5 separate regions of the Homo sapiens genome follow, and all the other regions are linked to region 2. Evidence: fine-mapped expression QTL. A gene starts in region 2. Each other region holds a variant in brackets. All regions are shown on one strand. Distances are between the middles of the regions. Region 1 overlaps SCML4 (Scm polycomb group protein like 4). Region 2 holds the start of SCML4 (Scm polycomb group protein like 4). Region 3 overlaps SCML4 (Scm polycomb group protein like 4). Region 4 overlaps SCML4 (Scm polycomb group protein like 4). Region 5 overlaps SCML4 (Scm polycomb group protein like 4).

Region 1 (4,119 bases), 67 kb after region 2:
CAGGTCTTGAACTCATGAGCTCAAGTGACCCTCTTGCTTCAGTCTCCTAAAGTGCTGGGATAACAGCACTCAGAGATTCTGATGTGAGCCACTGGGCCTAGCACCATATTTATTTTTATAAAATGAAAACTAGCTTGTGTGTTTCCCCGCTTAAAATCCTGTAATTATTTCCATCACTCATAGAATAAAATCCAAGCTTGTTATCCTGACTGTATTTGTTTCCTTAGGGCTGCTGTAACAAAGAACTACCAACTGGGTGGCTAAAACATCCTTTCTGGAGGCTAGAAGACTGAAATCAGGGTGTCAGCAGGGCCATGCTCTCTTTCTGAAGACTCCAGGGGAGGGTCCTTTCTTGCCTCTTCCTAGCTTCTGGTGGTTGCCGGCTGTTTCTTGGCTATCAACACATTACTCCAATCTCTGCCTCTGTCGTCACATAGCATTCTCTCTAAACAGGTGTCTGTGCCTGTATCAAGTTTTTTTCATCTTATAAGCACACCAGTCATTGGGTTAAGACCAACCCTAATGCAGTATGCACTCATTTTAACTTAATTACCTCTGCAAAGACCCTATGTCTAAATAAAGCCAATATTTGCAGGTACAGGGGATTAGAACTTGAACCTATGTCTTTTTAGAGAGACACAATTCAATGCATAACGCTAAGTTAGAAAACTGCCATTATCTCAACCTAACCACCTAACTTGACCTCTTCTTGCACCATTCTGACTCTTGCCCACAGTTCCAACCACTCTGGTTTCTTGAAGAAGCCAAGCTTTAGAATGTTTGCACAAGCTGTTCTGTCTGCCTGGAAAGCTTTCTCCAGTCACAACAGGCTACCTCTAGCCACTCACATCCTGACTTCAATGTTACCCCTTTATAGGCCTACCCTGGTCACCTAGTTGCTTGCATTGAGAACAAGAAGTTTATCTTCCCCATTCACAGCTGAATCTTCAGCACCTAGAACAGTTCCTGGCACATAGTAGGTGCTCAAGAAGTTTTTGTTGAATAAATGTCTGTCTGATTGAATGAATGATTTTTTTTCCTTTTTAGATTTGGCTTAAATGATGCCACTTGGAAAGGATAGGTATTACATAAGCAACACTTAGGAACCATTTCAAGATGGATTGGAAGCATGTTTCACAGAGGGGATCATCTGCGAGGTGTGAGGAAAAAGGGTCGATTTGCAGAGATTTCTGAAGATGTGATCCCAAGAGATAAGCATGGAAAATGTAGATGGGTTCCAGGAAAGATGGGCAGTTTCCTCCTCCTGCCATCACTTCATGAACAAGAAACTTGGGACTTATTTGCATTTTTGGAATTTCTAAAAGTAACAATAATAATACTAACACCAATAATGACAATTAACTTTTATTGAGTTCTCACTTTGCATTATGCTAAACTTCTGCATTTAATTCTAACTACATCCCTGTGTGAGGGCTATTATCTTTACAGATGAGGAAAGGCAGGCTCTGAGGGCCTAAGTACTAAGCTTCAGAATCAGCGAGTGGCCACGCTGGACATTCAATCCAGATCCAAAGCTGGTATTCCTTTGCATGTGCCCACTGCTGCCCTAAACACATTTTAAAATCTTGCTTTGTTGGCTTACCCTCTGCGGATGTGCCAGCAGCCTCTATACATCCTCATCCTTCCCCAGCCACACTCTCCATCCTCAGATTATCCACCTCTTGCTACCAGTCTGTCAAACAATGTTTAGTTGGCATTTCTGTTACTGCCAAAGCCAGATGTTTCTAGAAAAATCCTTGAGTTTTATATCAACCGATCCTCTCCCCTTTAGTGTGCTCTTGACCGCACATCTCCGTTTCCCCCCAAATCCCCTCCCAATTCTTTCCAGTGATGTTCTAGCAAATGTCTTAGACAAGGTCCTCCCCTAAATGACAGCTGGAGCCAGAAATTCCCCAGGCCCATATTTTGGTTCTATAAATGGAAAAGAAAGATGAGCTGATTCCAGATTCCCCAGCCCCCCTGGTGGAGACTCCAGCTGGTAGGGACACTTTGCCCTACCGCTTTGTCCCAGCAGTATTCTCTAATGAGGCAAAGCACAGACCTTGCCTTGGATGAGGGGTCGCCACACCTGCTGGGTTGAGGTTTTGAATCTCAGGTAAAGGTGGCAACTGCACTAGCATTTGGGCAGGGATGTTGGCTTTGAAGGCCCAGGATTAGCTCCTGTATGTCAGAGCATGGCGTCCTGCACAGCAAGCTGCTTCCAGTTCTGTGCTGCCAGGAAGAGGCCTCTCTTCTCTCCTCCTCTC[C/A]ATTTACCCAGTTTATTCTGCCACATCCTGTTTTTAATATTTTGAAAACAAACACTATTTTAGAATAGTTTTCAGTTTACAGAAGTATTGCAGAGATAAAACAGAGAATTCTCACGTACCCCGCACCTGATTTCCCCCCATTTTTAACATCTCATATTACTGTGGTATGTTTGTCTCAACTAGTGAACCCATCATAATACTTCATTATTAAATAAAGTCAATATTTTATTCCGATTTAATTAGCTTTTCCCTATTCTATTCTATTCCAGGATCCCATCCAAGATACTACATAACATTTAGTTGTCATGTTTCCTTAAGCTCCTCTGGGCTGGGAAAGTTGCTCAGAATTTCCTTTTGTGATGACTTTGGCAGTTTTGAGGAGTACTGGTTGGGTATTTTGTAAAGTGTTCTGCAATTTCAGTTTGTCTAATGTTTTTCTCATGATTAGACTAGGGTTAGGGGGCTTGGGGAAGAAGATCCCAGAGGTGACGTGGCATTTTCATCATATGGTGAGAGTACATGCTAGTGACATGACTTATCACTGATGATGTTGACCTTGATCCTATGGTTGAAGTCTTATTTATCAGGTTTCTCCATTGTAAAGTTATATTTCCCCTTCATTTCCTTACTGTACTCTTTGGAAGTACTCACTGTGCACAGCCCATCCGTAAGGAGTAGGGAATTGCACTTCACCTACTTGAGGGAGGGGTGTCTACATAAATTATTTGAAATTTTTATGCATGGGAGAGTTGTTTGTTCTTTCCCTTTTATTTACTGAGTCAACCACCTATTTATGTCAGTGTGGATTCATGAATATTTATTTCATACTTTGAGTTATAATCCATTACTACATTATTTATTTGTTGTTCCTCTTGGTCCGAATTTGGCCACTGGGAGCTCTTTCAGTTGGCACCTGTGTCCCTGTAACCAGTCCCCACCATTGTGTGTGTTTTGTTTCCTTAGTGTTGTCTTACTTTCTGGCATTACAAGATGCTCTAGGCTCCCAGTGTGTAATCCCTACCCTAATCCTAAAATCAGCCATGTCTGCAAGGAGTTTTTTTTCCTTACATTGAAGAATGGTGTTAGAAACCACTATATCAGAACTGTGTTTTATTTTGTCCATTTAAAAAACAAAATAGACAGCTTTTTTTTTTTTTTTAGAAACCTAAGGCAACAACAAAGACAAATGCCCTGCCAGAGAACAGCTTGGATAGGTTGCGACAGGCAGAGAACCCCCCCATTCCACTGGAGAGAGGTTTGTGCTGATGGACTGGGCCCTGCATCACACTAGAGCAAAGCTTCTAGCCAGTGGGCTCATATCCGTGCTCTTCTTTTTTAGGACTTTTCCAAAATCATGGGTGACTCCCTTTTCTACACTAGGCTACTTTTTATTCTTTATATTAAGCAATGAGATTGAAATTTCTGAATGCTAAGTCAAAAGGGTATTTCTACTCGTGATTTTTTATCTAGCGAAGGATATTTTTAAAAAGCCATATACTACCCATAGTTGCTCGTGACTTTTTCTTTCATTCAAAAGTTCTAGCAGTTGTTTTAGAGACTGGATAAATACAGGAGGTTTCCTTGCAATCAGGCAATTTAATCTAATCCCTGTAATTTCAGTTGGGCAGAAATGGACAGAAGTAACAGCCAATTATAATTCCATTACTTCATTTGAGGTGGGTTCAGTGAACAGATTCCTCTCTAGTAATTTTTTTTTTTTTTGAGACAGGGTCTGTCTCTGTTGCCCAGGCTGGAGTGTAGTGGTGTGATCATAGGTCACTGCAGCCTCGATCTCCTGGGTTCAAGCAATCCTCCTGCCTCAGCCTCCTGAGTAGCTGGAACAACAGGCATA
Region 2 (4,119 bases):
TCATCCATCTTCTTTCCTTTTCTTTCCTTTTCTTTTCTTCTTTTTCTTTTCTTTCTTTTCTTTTCTTTTCTTCTTTTCTTTTTCTTTCTTTTTTCTTTTTTTTTGAGATGGAATTTCACTCTTGTCACCCAAGCTGGAGTGCAATGGCGTGATCTCAGCTCACTGCAACCTCTCCCTCCCAGGTTCAAGCGATTCTCCTGCCTCAGCCTCCCGAGTAGCTGGGATTACAGGCAAGCGCCACCAAGCCTGGCTAATTTTTGTATTTTTAGTAGAGATGGGGTTTCACCATGTTGGCCAGTCTGGTCTCGAACTCCTAACCTCAAGTCCAGGAGTCCCAAAATGCTGGGATTACAGGCATGAGCCACCACACCTAGCCCATCCATCTTATTTTCTTTTTTTTTTTTTTTTTTTTGAGATGGAGTCTCGCTCTGTCACCCAGGCTGGAGTGCAGTGGCACGGTATCGGCTCACTGTGAGCTCCGCCTCCCGGGTTCACGCCATTCTCCCTCCTCAGCCTCCCAAGTAGCTGGGACTACAGGCGCCCGCCACCACGCCCAGCTAATTTTTTGTATTTTTAGTAGAGACGGGGTTTCACCATTCACAGGATGGTCTCGATCTCCTGACCTCGTGATCCACCCGCCTTGGCCTCCCAAAGTGCTGGGATTACAGGCATGAGCCACTGCACCTGGCCCATCCATCTTATTTTCTTTTCTTCTCCTCTTCCTCCTTCTTTAGTGAAATCAACTTATATGAAATGAAAATGCAAACTACCAAACCTGCCTTTTCCCATACAAAACAACAAAATTTGATGATTAAATGAACTAAAGTAGTGAATTTCTTCTTGCTCAATTAATTACAAGGCTTTGACTTAAAACAATTTTTTATATTTTCATAATAAATTTCAGAGGAGAGATTTCTTATGTACTTCTAATGTGACTCTACACATATATTTAGAGAAACCTCAAGTTGTCCATTGCAGTTTTTTTCACTCTCAGTAACTGGCCAGGTTGTGGCCTAAGCCTTCGTTAGCCCTGGTTGATATTTAGTCCCGGCTAAATTTGTTTGCTGCTCATCCCTAGGAGTAAGCCACATGTTTGTAGAATGGATGTTTCATCTTGTAGGAAATACCTGTGAATATGCCAATATCCCAGAGTGGATGAAATGGGCAATGGGGAGCCCTGCTCCACTTTACAAAAAGAAAGGAAAAGAAAAGATCCCTTCGCCGATATATATTGATTTGCTGCAGAAAATGCAATGGGGCATGGGAATGAATAGTCACTCTTGCCCTGTTTCTATCCTGTGCAGGTCCCACCACGTTGAGGTGGGTAGAGATGCTTACACACACACACATACAGGCCTGGAGCCAAAGTCAGGGCCGGCTTTAATGAACTGTACACATATGTTGTGGGCAGCCGCTGATTTAATATGTACAACCATGGTGTGTGCACACACCTGGATAGGCACACTGCTCTGGGAATCACACAGGGTCTCCTGAACAATGATGCTATTGTAATATTTCTTTTTGTTTTATTTGTCCAAAGTCAAACATTCACTCTGTCAGATCACCAGTGTCTTATAAGCCTGGTGTTGGCCCACACTGCTGCAGGATTGGGACAAAGAGACGATGTTACAGTCTGGTTTCTATGGCAACAGAGGAGGGGTAATGAAAACTGAAATGTTGGAAACACCCATTCTAACCATTGTGACATAATTCAGGTTATTACAAGGATGTAACTACCAAAGAAGCAGAAGTGTCATTACCTTGCAGCTCATGTCGACAAAAAGCTACACTGCACATTTCTCTTAGGCTGCTAAGAGGAAGGAAACACAAAACACACACACACACACACACACACACACACACACACACACACACACACACACACAGAGGCCTCGTTTTCTGCATGTAAAATGTGTGTGTTCTTTAAAAGCCAGTGGTTGGCTGGTTTTCCGGACATGATGTGGTTGAAGCTGTCATCGTAATGGAAATTCATTGCTGTAGCTATGGTAAATCGAGTTTTCTGCCTGTGCTGAATGCATTAGTCTAATGAGATGTTTGCAGCTGGAGCGCAGGGCTGCTGGAGACTAACTGTGAGCTACTAACACGGGTGGAAGATAGCTTTTGCAATACTCGGTTTGCATGTGCTGAAAGTCATCTGTCTTCTGAGTCAACACTCCCGACCTGGTAAACAACCTGCTCAGGGCTCTGGTGAACAAGCTGTAGGTAAGGGAGATGCACAATTGGAGGCGTGCCGTTGACACGGGATCTTTCTCTTGTAACTGTCAGCATGACAGGTTACCTGTTTCAGTTTTTTCTGGGTTGCATGCCTACCTCTATGGCAACGCACAAGAGTGTCCTGCACTAAAACCACTGAGTCCAGTAGGTAAACTTTAGTTCCTCATATGCAAAGTACAGCATTTAATTTATTAACCAGATCTCAGAGGGGAAAATGTAACATTGAATTATATAGTTTATAAATTTGGGCTATATACATGTTCATTACTCTTTAACTCTGCATTTAAATACCTAGAAAGTTATTTTTTTCCAAATGTGAACTCAAGTAACCGGTTAGTTATTTTTTCCCTTCACGATAATTTTGCTTTGTTTTGCTTTTTAATTTTAAAAAAATTGTACTATGTCTTGGGATAAAAATATTTACCTAAAATTTGGTTATTAAAATTGGTATGTTATGAACATGTAAAAGTGTTTTTTTTCCCATTTAATTTTATTTCAAATATCCCAGGTAGAATATTTCACATGTCTTTGTGCTGGTTTTTCCTAATTTATGAGGCATAAATAAGAATAATATTTACTGCTAGTTTCTGGTTTTAATTCGTTTTTTGGGAAAAAAACTGGTGACTATGGAGTATTAGCGGCAGTTTTCCCAAGCTCAAAATCACCTCCTTCCCAGGTGGAGCACTGTGACTTGAACCAGCTTCCACGTGCTCCTCCCAAAGCATGAGGGGTCCTCTCCAGGTTGATTGCTGGCTGGACAGGAGCGGTGGATGAGGCCAGGGTGCAGGCTGCTGAGCTGTTTTGCTGAGTTGAGGTGCTTGAGTCAAAGTTCTTTCCACTATCTGTGATCGTGAACGAGAGGTGTCTCCTCGTGTTGTCTCTAGATTCCATGACGGTACTCATGAGGGTTAGACAATCAGTGGCTTTCTGAGAAAGTGGTTTTTTACTGATCTCAGACACTACAGTACTTGAGAAAGTAATCCAGGCACTTCAGAATCAGGGTATTTGTTATATGCTGTTTTTCTTTCTTTTCAACCAGAGGAACCATTTTTGAAGAATGAGGGATATAGCTGCTTTTTTTCTCCACTTTTTTTTTTTTAAAGCAAAATAGAATATCTGGAGTGAAAGCATAAAAATAACTACAAAGGAATTCTTAGTGTGTTAAACTATCTGGGGGGTATAATATTTGTGTGGAGCATTTTTTGTGTTGCTTGGTAGAACTAGTCTGATAAAATGAGGGGCTGTTTGAGCAACAGCAGCTGGGTGAAGATTACCTAGAAAATCGGTACTGCGTGATCGTCTAAACTCAAAAGGTTAATGTAGAATCTTCAGTTTTAGGGAAATTGGTGGCTTCACAAACTATAACTTTTAAACAGGCTTTTTGACAGAATTTTTAAAAAATATGAATGTGTTTTCTTTAGCTCTTTAAATTGTGTACGTAGATGAGCTCTGAAATATTTTGGTAAATTCATCAGTTTGCTTCATTTGTGGAATTATAACAAAAGTGCAAAGCCCACAAAAATCCAGTTCTTTCATGTATAACATGTTTACATTTCTTCCCTGTGTCCCCAAAATTACTTTTATTTTGCTGCAAAAAAAAAAAAAGAAAAGAAAAAAAGAAAAGAGTAAATGAACGGTAATAGAAAGACAAGAAAACAATAAGCGAAACGAGTAAGTTGCTTTTCATCATTTCTTTGCTTTTGGTGGTGTGTTTTCGAGGCGAGGGAAATCAGCAGAAGCAGTTTCACTTTCTGGTTCTTGACTCCTGGGGGTGAGGGTGAAAGGCTGTCTCCTCTAGCAAGCAGCAGGTAAGCTAAGCAGCTCAGCCCACAGAAAACAAGCCAGACCCAAATACTGTCACTTGCTGCAAGAACTTTTATAATG
Region 3 (4,119 bases), 100 kb after region 2:
GTTTGGGGAGGATTGTGGGGCTATCCAGATCAGCACTTGCATCCCTGCTTGTTAGCCGTGGCGGAGGATGGCTGCCCTCATGTGTTTGTATCAGGACTAAAGGTGTGGGGAGAAAGCACTGTGGCACCTGGGCCACCACCCAGGCCACAGTTGTCTCTCCTGACTCTGGGACATTGTGACTCTTGCTTGATCTCTCCCAGGAGTCCTGAGCCAGGTGAGGGGGGCTGTGCTGGTGGGTGAGCAAGAGCAGGGAGTACAGGGAGATTCTGAGAAGCCAGCAGAGACTGTGAGGGCAGAGCCACTGCAGAAGAAAGTCTTTGATCTTACTCTTTTTTTTTTTCTTTTTTTGAGATGGAGTTTTGCTCTGCAACCTCTGCCTCCCGGGTTCAAGCGATTCTCCTGCCTCAGCCTCCTGAGTAGCTGGGATTACAGGTGCCTGCCACCACATCCGGCTAATTTTTTGTATTTTTAGTAGAGATGGAGTTTCATCATGTTGGCCAGGCTGGTCTTGAACTCCAGACCTCAGGTGATCCACCTGCCTTGGCCTCCCAAAGTTCAGGGATTACAGACGGGAGCCACTGCACCTGGCCTGATTTGGGCTTATTAAGTCATCAATGGCCAAAATATCAATTTTCCTCTAAGCACCGAGGAGCACACCTCCTAATTCCTATTACAATATGCTCCTGTGGGCAAAGCAGCTCTCAGCCTGCTGACAGGTATGCTATTTGGAATTATGTTGTGAGGTTCATTTCTCCTCTCTGCATGCTCACAAATACTGGCTACTGTGTTGGCAGGGCAGGGTTTGCCAAGACGGAGGGTCTGATAGCTTCCTGAACTGCTCTCTGATATCTGCTTCTCTGTACTGCCTTATTGCTTAGTCAAGACAGTCACCACCGAAGAGTACCTGGTGAACCCTGTGGGCATGAACCGCTACAGCGTGGACACCTCCGCCTCCACCTTTAACCACAGGGGCTCCTTGCACCCCTCCTCCTCGCTGTACTGCAAGAGGCAGAACTCTGGAGACAGCCACCTTGGGGGTGGTCCTGCTGCCACCGCTGGTGGTCCCCGCACTAGCCCCATGTCTTCTGGTGGCCCCTCGGCACCTGGGCTGAGGCCTCCAGCCTCCAGCCCCAAGAGAAACACGACCTCTCTTGAAGGAAACAGATGTGGTAATGTAATGCATGCATCAGCTTCCCACTGACTTAACATCCCTTGCCCTTGCGCGGGGAGCACAGCATCTGGGGAAGGGGGAGTGTGGCTGTTTAAACGTGGGACTGCTGGGAGATCAGAAATTTCCACAAGTCCTTTCATGGATCTTGAGGTTCTCAAAAACAGCCAAACTCAACCTTTGATAAGCAAAGAAAATCGTGTATTAGGGCAGGCTAGGCCACAGGATACGTAGACTCCAAAATGTACACAGGCTCAAATACCATAGAAATTTTTGTTCGAGAGCCAAAGGTGAATGTTCCTGATTCATGGATGCATCTCAATATAGGGACATAGGCTCCATCTATTTTGTGGCTCTGCCACCCTCTACAGCCTTCATGCCCCATGCATTAGGGAATAGAAAGGGAAAGAAGGTGTGGAGAAGACACAGGTGCTTCCCTGCAATCTGAAAGTGATGCTCATCACTTCCACTCACATCTCATTGGCAAAAGCTGGTCATTTTGCCACACTTAACCATAAGGGACTCTGGAAGCTGTAGGTTAGCTCTGCCCAGGAGAAAGGAGAACCAGACCTTGGTAAAGAATTGTCTCTTGCATAGGAAGTGTCACCTTCAGGATACAAATACATGAGCAGAGGCAGAGTTAGGCAAAATTCCCCCAATGCTGGTTGTAATGCCACTTCTGTCTCATCCACTAAAGAAAGCTTGTTGGAATGCAGTCTACAAAAGCGCTATAAGGGCTAAAGGATTATAGTAATAGCTTGAAGGCCCTTCTGATTGATGTTTTAAAAAATCATTTTCAAGCTTCAGTATTTTGATAGTGCCTAAAGGCCATAGAGTATAGTGGATAATCACTGGGACTAGAGCCAGACAGCCTGGGCTGAGATGCTGGATCTGCTGCTTCCTGCCTACCTTTTGCAAGTCTTAACTTACCTGTGCTTCAGTTTCCTCACCTATAAAATTGTGATAATAATAATGGCAGCACCTGCCTCATAGGATTGTTGGGAGGATTAAATGAGTTCATACATGCATTTAGTACAAGACCTAGGAGGTAACAAGAGCTCAATAAATGTTAGTAGTTACAGCATAGATCTTTTTAACACATCCCTTAACAGATCACAGCCCATCAGCTCCACAGCTGAGAACTGCTGAAGAAAGAAGGCCCCAGGCCAAGGAGTCTGGGAGTCTTCATCTTGCCACCCTGTAGCCCCTCAGTGGGCAGGCTCTGTCTTCTGTGGCAAGTCACATTTCTCCCCTGAGCCTAGG[A/T]TCCTTCCACCAGTGACCCCAGCAAGCCGCACACGTGAGCTATTTTGTATGATTCAAGACCCTCCACACATTCTCTTCCAAGAGCCTCATCCAACCCAGATGAGCGTGGCCCTGACCAGCTTCCCCTGGCCAAGGATGGAGAGGTGAGAAGGGGCCCCTTGCCGGAGAGGCGTTCTGAGGGGTAGAGCGCAGATTCTCCCTCCACAGCAGCTCTTACCAAATGTAGAGATGCCCTGCAGGCCACTTTCCAACACTGTCACACAGGGCCATGAGCCAGGCAGATTAAGTGAGCAGAGCCCTATTTTCCAAAGGAGAGCAACATTGTTCCATTTGATTCCTAAGAACAAGAGAAAGGGACAAGATCTTTCACGAACCAACACTGTAAAGTAAACCAGGGGCAGCCTTGATTTCATAGGTTTGTCCCCAGTGTTAGCTTAATATCTGGCATGTGGTAGGTGTTCAATAAACATGCATCATGTCTGTGCCCTCACGGTGTCCCTTTGTCTTCTTGTCAAAACACTCATCCTTATGTCCCTCTTGAGTTTAAATGTCTTTCTCTCATCCTCTTCTCCTCAGCCCCATTCCCCTTTTCTCAGGGTGGTGATCACAGGACACCATGCTGATTGAATTGACTCATAATCCCAGAGTCCCACTTTTTAAAAAGGAGATATTTACTCTCTCTCCCACTCACGTTGGTGCAATCTCAGCCCTATGTCTTAAATGCAGGATTTCCAGCAGTAAGAGGGAGGCATGATTTGGTTGGAGAGAACTTCTATCACTCACTCAACAACAGTCTGCCCTGTTCAGTCCAACTGGTGACCCAGGGCCAGGGAATCCAGGGCTCTTCAGAGGGCTTCAGCATAGCTCCTGTCCCCCAGCCCCTCACACCTCCTTCCAGTTGAGCCCTAGGATGTCCTCCTGTCCTTCACTTTCATCCCCATACCGGCCCTTTGTTCTCCTGTGTATGAGTCTGTTCTGCTAATAAAGACATACCCGAAACTGGGTAATTTGTAAAGGAAAGACGCTTAATGGACTCACAGTTCCACATGGCTGGGGAGGCCTCACAATCATGGCAGAAGGCAAAGGGAAAGCAAAGGCACGTCTTACATGGTGACAGGTAAGAGGGCTTGTGCAAGGGAACTCCCCTTTATAAGACCATCAGATGTCGTGAGACTTACTGGCTACCACAGGAACAGAATGGGGGAACCAAACCCATGATTCAATTATCTCCAACTGGCTCCATCCTTGACACATGGGGATTATTACAATTCAAGGTGAGATTTGGGTGGGGACACAGAGCTAACTCATATCATCCTGGAATCAGGCCCTGACAGTCTGAGTAATCTTGCCAGACGACTGGCCGAGGGGCAGCCCAGACCCTTCCTCAGCCTCCAGCTCTGAGAAAGCCTCTCTGCTGGAGCCTGGTTGCACCCCAGGAGAGGCCCCCTAGCTCAGGCCCTTCTGCCTGTCAGGATCTGGGATGAGATCAGAGACACGGAGTCCACCTGTGCCTGCTGCCTTTCATCCCAAGAACATCAATACCTGAACCCTGAATCCTGGCTGTCTTTTTAATAACTTAGAAGTATTAGAACCAGCCAGGCACGATGGTTCATGCCTGCAATCCCACCACTTTGGGAGGCCAAGGCGGGTGGATCACTTGAGGTCAGGAGTTTGAGACCAGCCTGACC
Region 4 (4,103 bases), 120 kb after region 2:
CCAGGCAAACCGCAGTAGCACCTGTTCCTAAACCACTTCGAGGATTAAATAAGAAAATGCACAAAAGGTGTTCAGCACGGTTCCTGACTCGGATAGCCTTCACTGAGCAGATAGCATTATAATGATTTTGAGATATGCTAAAATATAGAGATGGTAATTTTTTTAAAGATAAGAATCAATAATTTACCTGCCAGGCTTACTATATGCATTTTGTTTTTGTTTGTTTTTGTTTGAGACGGAGTCTCATTCTGTCGCCCAGGCTGGAATGCAGTAGTGCGATCTCAATCTCGGCTCACTGCAGCCTCTGCCTTCCCAGTTCAAGCAATTCTTGTGCCTCAGCCCACCCGAGCAGCTGGGATTACAGGCACCCACCACCACGCCCAGCTAATTTTTATATTTTTAGTAGAGACTGGGTTTCACCATGTTGGCCAGGCTGGTCTCATCCCAAAGTGCTGGGATGACAGGTGTGAGCCACCGCGCATGGCACTGTACTCATTTTATATTGTGCTGTAACAGATTACCACCAACGTAGTTGCCTCACACAATATACATTCTCTGTCTTACCACTCTGGGGATCAGGAGCCTGGCATGGGTCTCAGTGGGCTCAGCCAGCAAGGCTGCCTTTCCTTCTGGAGGTTCTAGGGAGAATCCGCTTGGTTGTCTTTTCTGGCTTCTAGATCCACCATCAGTCCTTGGCTCCTGTCCCCCTGCCATCATCTTTAAAGCCTGTAACATCAAGCTGAGGCCTGTTCGGCTGCTCGGGCTGCCATCCCTGGTTCTCACTGCTGATGTCCTCTTCCACGTTTAAGGAGCTTTGTGATTACACAGCCGCCACTCCCCCCACCCACCTGGCCCCATAATCCGGGATAATCTCCCTACTTTAAAGTCAGCTGATTAGCAAGCTTAATCCCATCTGCAACCTTAATTCCCCTTCACCGTGTAACTTGACATTCACAGGTTTGGGGACTAGAATCCAGACGTCGTGCATGGAGGGGAAGGAGCATTATTCCGCCTTCCACAGTGACCATTATTTTTGTTTCCTGTTTCTTATTTTATTTGGTGATTCTGTCATAGAAATCATGCTCTCCAATCTTAGGAGGATTCTCATCTAACTCAGCACTTGCCTTTTATTAGGCATATGTTGACCTCACCTAACAATGGGGACTTAAGACCAAGAACCACAGAGTGGGTTATGCTTGGACAGATTTGGGCAGGGGGAGTCTGGCTGTCTTCCAGGGTGGGAGGAGACAGTGGGAGTCCAGGAGGTGAGGGAAATAAAAGACAGTAGAAAATGAGGCTCCTGGGAGTGGCCCACAAGTAAGCCTTGCCCACTGCCATTTTGCCAAAGACATGGAGAGTGACACAGAGTGGGTGCTCCATCAATACTGGCTGGCTGGGCAGATGAATGAGAGAGCTGGTGACCCTGGCACCATTATATGAATCCTGTAACTATGTCTTTTCTCCCTGCTTGAGCACCTGAAATTTCTACCCTTTGTCTCCAGTGACCTGAAAATGGCACTAAAGGTGACCATGGAAGCCCAGCCTTGCTAGGTTCATGAACTCCACATGCATTCTGGAGGGTGACCATTTTCAATGACCAATGGCAGCAACACCGGGACCAAACCTC[A/C]AAGGACTGGCTCATCCTCTTAGTAGTTCTTTGTGCTGAACCCTGAGATGAAGCAGGGGCATTCTTTAGTGTATTCCATCTAGTGGAATAGACAGGGCTAAACACACCTGAAATCTTCCATAGGTGGAATGAGTTGCTTTGTTATCAGCTAAAGGTAGGTGGGCCTACTAAGAAATGAGAAATTAGGGCAATAGGTGGAGGTTTGGAATGGAAAGACCCTCTAGTTCCAGGTTCTAATGGATGACGGTTTTTGCCCCTTTAGCCAAGTTTGGATGAGGAGATAAACTTCCTAAGTGGGATATTGGGAACACACATGAGGTTGTGTTTGATTCCTTCTATGAGGGGAGGGCAGGAATATGAAACACCCCGTGTATCAAATGACTCCAGGGAGATGATGGGGAGAGGAGAACACAGTATTTGTTTGCTTTAATATTTTAAAAGACCTTGCCCCAGGACCAAGAGAATATGCTGCCTAAATCAATCCATATGCCCTGAGCACACCCCTTGACCACACCTTAACCTTAGCCACTGTTCGATGACTCTGACCATCTTCTGGGTTTATCTTTCTTCTGATCCTATCCCACCAGGAGATTGATGGCAACGCTCTGCTGTTGCTGAAGAGTGACATGGTCATGAAGTACCTGGGCCTGAAGCTGGGACCTGCACTGAAACTCTGCTACCACATTGACAAACTGAAGCAAGCCAAGTTCTGACTTTTTTAAAAAGACAGAAGCGAAACCCAAAACAACAGATCCCAAGATTATCTTCTGCCTTACCAATATCCCGCCAACATCACAAACTAGACTCTCCTCTTAAAATTAACAGCCACAGAGACGTGGTCTTTTTATAAAACTTGTGAATCTTTGCCTTTTGAAGAATTTAACATGGACCTTTTCGAGAGGCTCCTCTGTGTTCATAATTTGCCAAAAAATTACAAAAGCCTGTGATTTTTAACATCCCTGTTATGCTGGTTTCTCTTAAAGTGGGTCCTATTTGCATAACGAGAGAGTGGGGAACTGAATGCTTATGCCCAAGGAGAGTTCTGGAGGGTTCAAAGGATGAAAGAAGGACCTTTGTCCCTGCGGTCTCTGCAGGGACAACCCCCTCAGCACCATCTGCCTCTAACTCTGACCTGGGGACCTATCCATGTGAGCCTTGTTTGCCTCAGCTCTGGAAGCTGACTTCTGAAGATGACTGCCTCACCTTGCACTGTCTGGAAAACTTGAATTATTTTACGCCGTGAAAGAAAAAGGAAAAAAAAAAAAATCTTTTCTGTTCCTAGAAAATCTGAAGTACTGTGTTTCTCCGCTAGAGGGCAGACTGCTAATGAAATTTCAGGACCCTCACTGACTGCAGTAGCAGGATTGTTCAGTACTGAGTGGATGGGTTAGGGTGTCTGTGAACAAGATCTAGCCCACACAGAAACAGGGGATTTATTCCACAGTTAGCACCACAGATTGCGACTTGGGAAGAAACCATCAGCTAGAGGGGTCTAGTTCGTATCCAATCATTATTGACTGACTGACTGATACTCAACTAGCAAAGGCAAGAATTTGGAAGCACGCTCTACCCAGATGGGACTTTGGAGTTCCTTCCCTTCCAGAGTCCTTATTGAGGTGTTGAAGTGTTGGCATGCCGAAGAATCTTAGTGACATTTAGCCATGGGTGTTTCTTTAAAAAAGGAAAAGAAAATGTCTCAACGAAGCTTTGAAATGGGAGAGTGTTGATTTCTAGTTACATTGCTGGGTTATGTAGTTGTATCTGTGGCTAATTTTTCTAGTCCTCAACAAATACACAGACATGCTATTATGGGGTTTAATTCAATTTACAAATAGGTTTTCCTTCCTCACAGTGGAGTAATAGAAAAAATTGATTTTCTGCTCCTTTGCAGCTGTGTCCAGAGACGGACAATGAATCCACAATTTATTAGGCAGAGGCACAACTTCTCCACCATTCGTTTTATCCTTCTCTTTTCTCTGTTTCCCTCCACCTCTCTTCTTCTTCTTTCACACTGAGCAGAAAACATATCTTCAAAATGAATTCGCCTTTGCCATGTGCATATTCTCTTCCTTAAAAGGACATCAACAGTGTTGGAGATGAGGAGATGAACATTAGATTTTGGAATTTCTGGGAGGGAGAGGGTTAGGGATGACTCAGGGCCTCCCTTCGCCCAAAGGTGAATCAGAAAAGGCACCCCTTTCTCTGGGATACAACCTGAGCAGGGGTCTCAGCTGGCAAGTGGAGCAGGGTGGGGGCTCAACCTCCTCACCGCTTGATCAGCTGCCGTTGTACAGAGCATGACCTGTATAACCTTGAGGGCAGCCCTGGGTAGATCTGCAGAGTGACCCTCTATATAGTTAGAATCCAGATGAAGGCCATAAGAAATAGTCCATGCCATGCCGTTAGGCCCACTTTCATGTGCAGTACTTGAGAAAGCACATCGTAGCCTCCTTTTCAGACACACAAATGGCGGCTG
Region 5 (4,119 bases), 92 kb after region 2:
CTGTCCAAAGAGGCTCCTGCCTCTGACAGAAGAGTAGGTCCGGGAGATGGGCCAGGCATCTAAGTAGATCCAAGGGGTTGGAAACCAAGTTCTCTGATTATACCTCAGAACAGTGGAAGCACAAGGACTGGTGGAAACAAAGGGACAGGGTATGTGAGATGCAGCCATTCGAGGCCTCCAGGACCTGCACAGGTTGTATTAGAGACCCCTTCTGGTTATTCCCCTGGACCACAACCCTGAGCCCCTGTGGCGGACCCTAAGGTACTGCTATCTGCAGGCTACTCACACCATTATCTGTTGTCCATGCTTGAGAACTAGGGTTAGAATGGCAAACCATGCCAAGAGGAGCTGAAGCAGCTTAGGAAACCAGTAGGCTTCTAAGATGAACTTCATGAACTCTCTCCTAATAGTGGTGCTTTCTGTGTTTCATTCATAAGCAACAAACCCTTTGCTGAAAAAAACTACAACAAACAAACATAAACTCCCTGGCAGAGAAGTGGGCAGATACTCTGTACCAGATCTATCCTAGCTACTGCTGAGTTAATAATGACAACTTCCAATCTGGACATGCAGAATCAAGAGGAATGAAACGGCTTCCTTTCTTCTGTCCACAATAGTTATCTTTTGCTGTGTCATAAATTACCCCCAACACTTAGGGGCTTAAAATAACATTTAGGGTCTCACAGCTTCTGTGGGTCAGGGGACCAGGTGCAGCCACAGGCCTTCTGGTTCTGAATCTCTCACAAGGCTGCATCTCAAACCTCAACTAGGGCAGGACCCACTTTTCCAGCTTTTTCACATGGTTGTCAGCAGGACTGAGTTTCCAATGAGCTGTTGGTTTGTTGCCAGATGGGTCCCTTTGCAGAGCATCTCACAGCACAGCAACTTGCTCCACCAGAGTGAGCAATGCTAGGAGTGCTGTGAACCTCTCTCAAAGTCGAGATGTCCATTTAGAAAGGAAACTTACAAGGCGTCCTCTATTCCAGGAACTTCAGCATTTTCCTGATTAAGGACCACTTTTAATTTCCCCAAGGTTCTATGAAAGACCAAAAAATTGTGGGGGCTGTGGAGGAAACAGCGTGACCACAGGATGTCCCACCCACTTCGCCTCCCCCAGCTCTCGGGAATTCTCATAAGCTTGGCGTGGAGGTTTGGCAAAGCTGCGAGATCATATGGAGGGTGGTATGGAACCTGCTCTCCTCCCGAGAGCACAGAAAGGCCATTCATTATCCCAAACAGATGACTTTGGTCAAAAATGCCTTTGGTCAAAATTTCCAAAGGAGGAAATCAACCCCTAGGCTTAGAACAAAGTCTTAGGCAAACCAGAAACATCTGAGAGGATGTAAGAAGTTCAGGTGTCAGGCATTAAAATTATGGTCGGTTGCTGTGCATCTCATTAGGGGAGAAAAAATAGAAATGTACTTAAATGGACCAGAGGGGAGTCATAAGGTTGATTCTCAGGGCTGAGTGATCTGAACTGCAGAGACAACCTTAGAGAGAAAATCCATACTGGCCAGAGACCAAGTTAATGGAAAATTTAATTGAAGCAAATGAAATGCTCAGCCTCATAGGTAGTATGGCCCTGTGCCCTTTGAACCAGAAAGGCTGGGCCAGGAGGCCACAGAGGGCCCTAAGGGAAAACTCCCTTATCTGCAAGAACAAGGGGCGGGACTGAGTTTGAGAAAAGAAAATCTGCAAACCTCCACAGGAGCCTCAGTGAAAGGCTGCATGCAGGGGAGGAAACCTTCAGGTTTTGGTCACCAGGAAGTCCGTTAGAGATTCACAGCAGAAGGCCCCTCTGCATCCCACAGCACCAAGCACGTGCTGGAAACCGGCGGTCCCCCAGAGGA[C/G]AGTGGGAGAGGCTGCCGGGTGGCAGAGACACAACCACCAAGGTAGGCACCGAAGCACCTGTGTCTGGGCTCTGAGTAAAAGAGGTGCAGCTGGCACGAGCACCTGCTACTGCTTCCTGCGCCTTCTCCCTCCTGCCCCTCTCCTCGCAGGTCTCCTTTTCCTGTACTATCTAGGTGATGGCACCTGGCTAAGCAAAGAGGGGTAGCTGCTCCACAGCTCTACAAATCTGCGAACTGCACTCCTGCCTTTTCTAATCTGGGTTTCAGGGCTAGGAATCTCTGATGTTGCCATCTCTGTCAGCAAGCCGAACCAAACTGTTCACACACGGAGGCCACAGGACACTGACCATTGCCTGGGCAGGGTGTGGGGGTCGGCAGGGCTGGGCAGACCGGCAAAGGGGTCAGGCAATCAATCCTGAGCAAGGCCAGGGCTCCCAGTCTGGAGGAAGGTGGTCGTGCTGATTGTGGAAAGGGCTCACTCTGCAGCTGCTCCCTCAACTGGGAAGACTGATGCGGGAAGTGGGGGGTGAGAGAGAGAGAGAAAGACAAACAGGCAGAACTGTTTAGAGATGACAAATAGTGTCTAAGACTAGATGTTGTGGTTCTTATTGCCTTAATAGGTATTATGTGAGAATAATTTTGCATAGTGGAATTGTTGTGTTTCAGGACTTCATTTGGTTAGTGAATCCAGGTAAAATGCCAGTTTAGTTTTTAAAAATAAAATCAATAGTCCGAGCCCACTGGGCTGTAAGCAGTTAAGCCTTGTGTCCTAAGTGAGGAGAGCTGACACTTGGTCAGGAGCATCTATAGTTTTATACATAAGGTCCGTTTTCCCCTCCCTGCCGCTCTGTTTTGGGACTTTCTCTTTCTCTCTCTGGCTCGTGGCTTTCTCCTGCACCTCTTCCTCTTTCTGCTTCTCTCTTTGGAGGTTCTCTACATTTCAGGGGCTCACACCTGACCCTCCAGGACTGTAGCAGAAATGGGCTGCACCTGGGTGTCCTGGAAGCCATGGATGCAGGGGCATTACCTAACCCTATCTCCACCCCAGGCTTCAGCAAGGATCAGGGAGCAAGGGAGGAATCCACACACTCTGGACTCAGAACCCTGAAGCTTTGATCCCTAAACCGGAAGGCTTAGGCACAGTTCAGGTTCATATGCAAACAGGTATGCCTTGAGGCTTGAGTGGGTTTACATGCTTCTAGAGTGTTCTTTGGCCTCACTAATAGGCAGGCTTTATACACAGTGGCTGGAGGGAACCATAGTCCACAAGCAGGTTTAGCGATGGTGAAAAAGGACCATCAGTCTGTCCTGAAAGCTCCCAGGACGCCAAACCTTGAAAATGTGGCAGATTTCTTTGATGGGGCCACGTGTGTGTTTTCCTTTCTATTTAAGCATGCTCTCGTGACTGTGCAAAAGGCAGATCATTCTTTTTTTCTGGAGGAAAAGATTTAATGATTCTTAAATGGCAACATTAGTCTCTTGGCTGGATGCAGAGGGTTACAGAAGTGAGTAAAAAGCCACTCATTTACCTTGCTTTGTTAAGCTGGCATTCTCCACTGCAATTAAATGGCCTCACACAGGCTGGGTTGGAGCCTCTTGTTGATGAGCAGTGCCAGGGTGACAAGACAGCTTCTTTCAGATGGAAAACGATTTTGTATGGACACAGGAGGAAATTTCGACCATGAGTGCCTTCGCCTGTGAGCCCTACGGTCTGCCGGGACTCTGTGTGCAGGAGTTAGATCCTCCAACAGGTCGGCTGGCCCCATCTGGTGTTTGCTCACCAGTCAGCCACAAAAGCGCTTGAAAAGTGGGGGTTCCCTCTCCAGATACAGACTTGGTCCTTTCTTTTTACTGACTTTAAATATTGGATTTAGGTAAGAAACATATGTCACAGTTCAATTAAATTCTTAAGCTCCTAGTAGTTCTGCATACCTAGAATTCATCTGCCTCATGTTGGATGTTGAGGTGACCTAACATGTTGGATAGTGTAAAGGGTACATGTCCAGCAGTCATGTGTTTTAACTGAAGCAAGAAGAATTGAGGCTAGATGTAAGGAGGAACTTTTAGGCAATGAGATTCATAGCACAATGGCCTCACTCTAAAGGAGATTGTAAAATCTCTTTGGGGAAGCTTTCAAATAAAAGACTCAGTTATCTACCATAGTTTCTTTTCTAGACAACACCCTGCCTGAAGAGATAGGTTGGGGCTAGCTCAATGCATTCCAAATATTAATTTACCACCTTCACAATTTCTACTGTGTCTGAGTAAC

What was found.
Region 1: its variant is fine-mapped to the expression of SCML4 in whole blood (TOPMed, PIP above 0.99). The same link has a PIP of 0.9 or more in blood mononuclear cells.
Region 3: its variant is fine-mapped to the expression of SCML4 in whole blood (TOPMed, PIP above 0.99).
Region 4: its variant is fine-mapped to the expression of SCML4 in whole blood (INTERVAL, PIP above 0.99).
Region 5: its variant is fine-mapped to the expression of SCML4 in whole blood (TOPMed, PIP above 0.99).

Annotation. Positions count from the first base shown.
Region 1 is chr6:107,754,974-107,759,092 of GRCh38, reverse strand. All of the region lies in intron 2 of SCML4 (Scm polycomb group protein like 4), which reads left to right. Among named protein-coding and RNA genes, the nearest start is that of SCML4, 67 kb to the left of the region's middle. The variant C/A (reference allele first, on the strand shown) is at 2,268.
Region 2 is chr6:107,822,230-107,826,348 of GRCh38, reverse strand. SCML4 (Scm polycomb group protein like 4) reads left to right here and starts at 2,036. Exons shown (of 8, transcript NM_198081.5): 1 at 2,036-2,223. RefSeq lists an enhancer at 3,884-3,953.
Region 3 is chr6:107,717,753-107,721,871 of GRCh38, reverse strand. It overlaps SCML4 (Scm polycomb group protein like 4), which reads left to right. Exons shown (of 8, transcript NM_198081.5): 6 at 879-1,169. Among named protein-coding and RNA genes, the nearest start is that of SCML4, 100 kb to the left of the region's middle. The variant A/T (reference allele first, on the strand shown) is at 2,432.
Region 4 is chr6:107,703,437-107,707,539 of GRCh38, reverse strand. SCML4 (Scm polycomb group protein like 4) reads left to right here. Exons shown (of 8, transcript NM_198081.5): 8 at 2,215-4,103. The coding sequence ends at 2,340. Among named protein-coding and RNA genes, the nearest start is that of SCML4, 120 kb to the left of the region's middle. The variant A/C (reference allele first, on the strand shown) is at 1,628.
Region 5 is chr6:107,729,747-107,733,865 of GRCh38, reverse strand. The region is part of intron 5 of SCML4 (Scm polycomb group protein like 4); the gene reads left to right. Among named protein-coding and RNA genes, the nearest start is that of SCML4, 93 kb to the left of the region's middle. The variant C/G (reference allele first, on the strand shown) is at 1,851.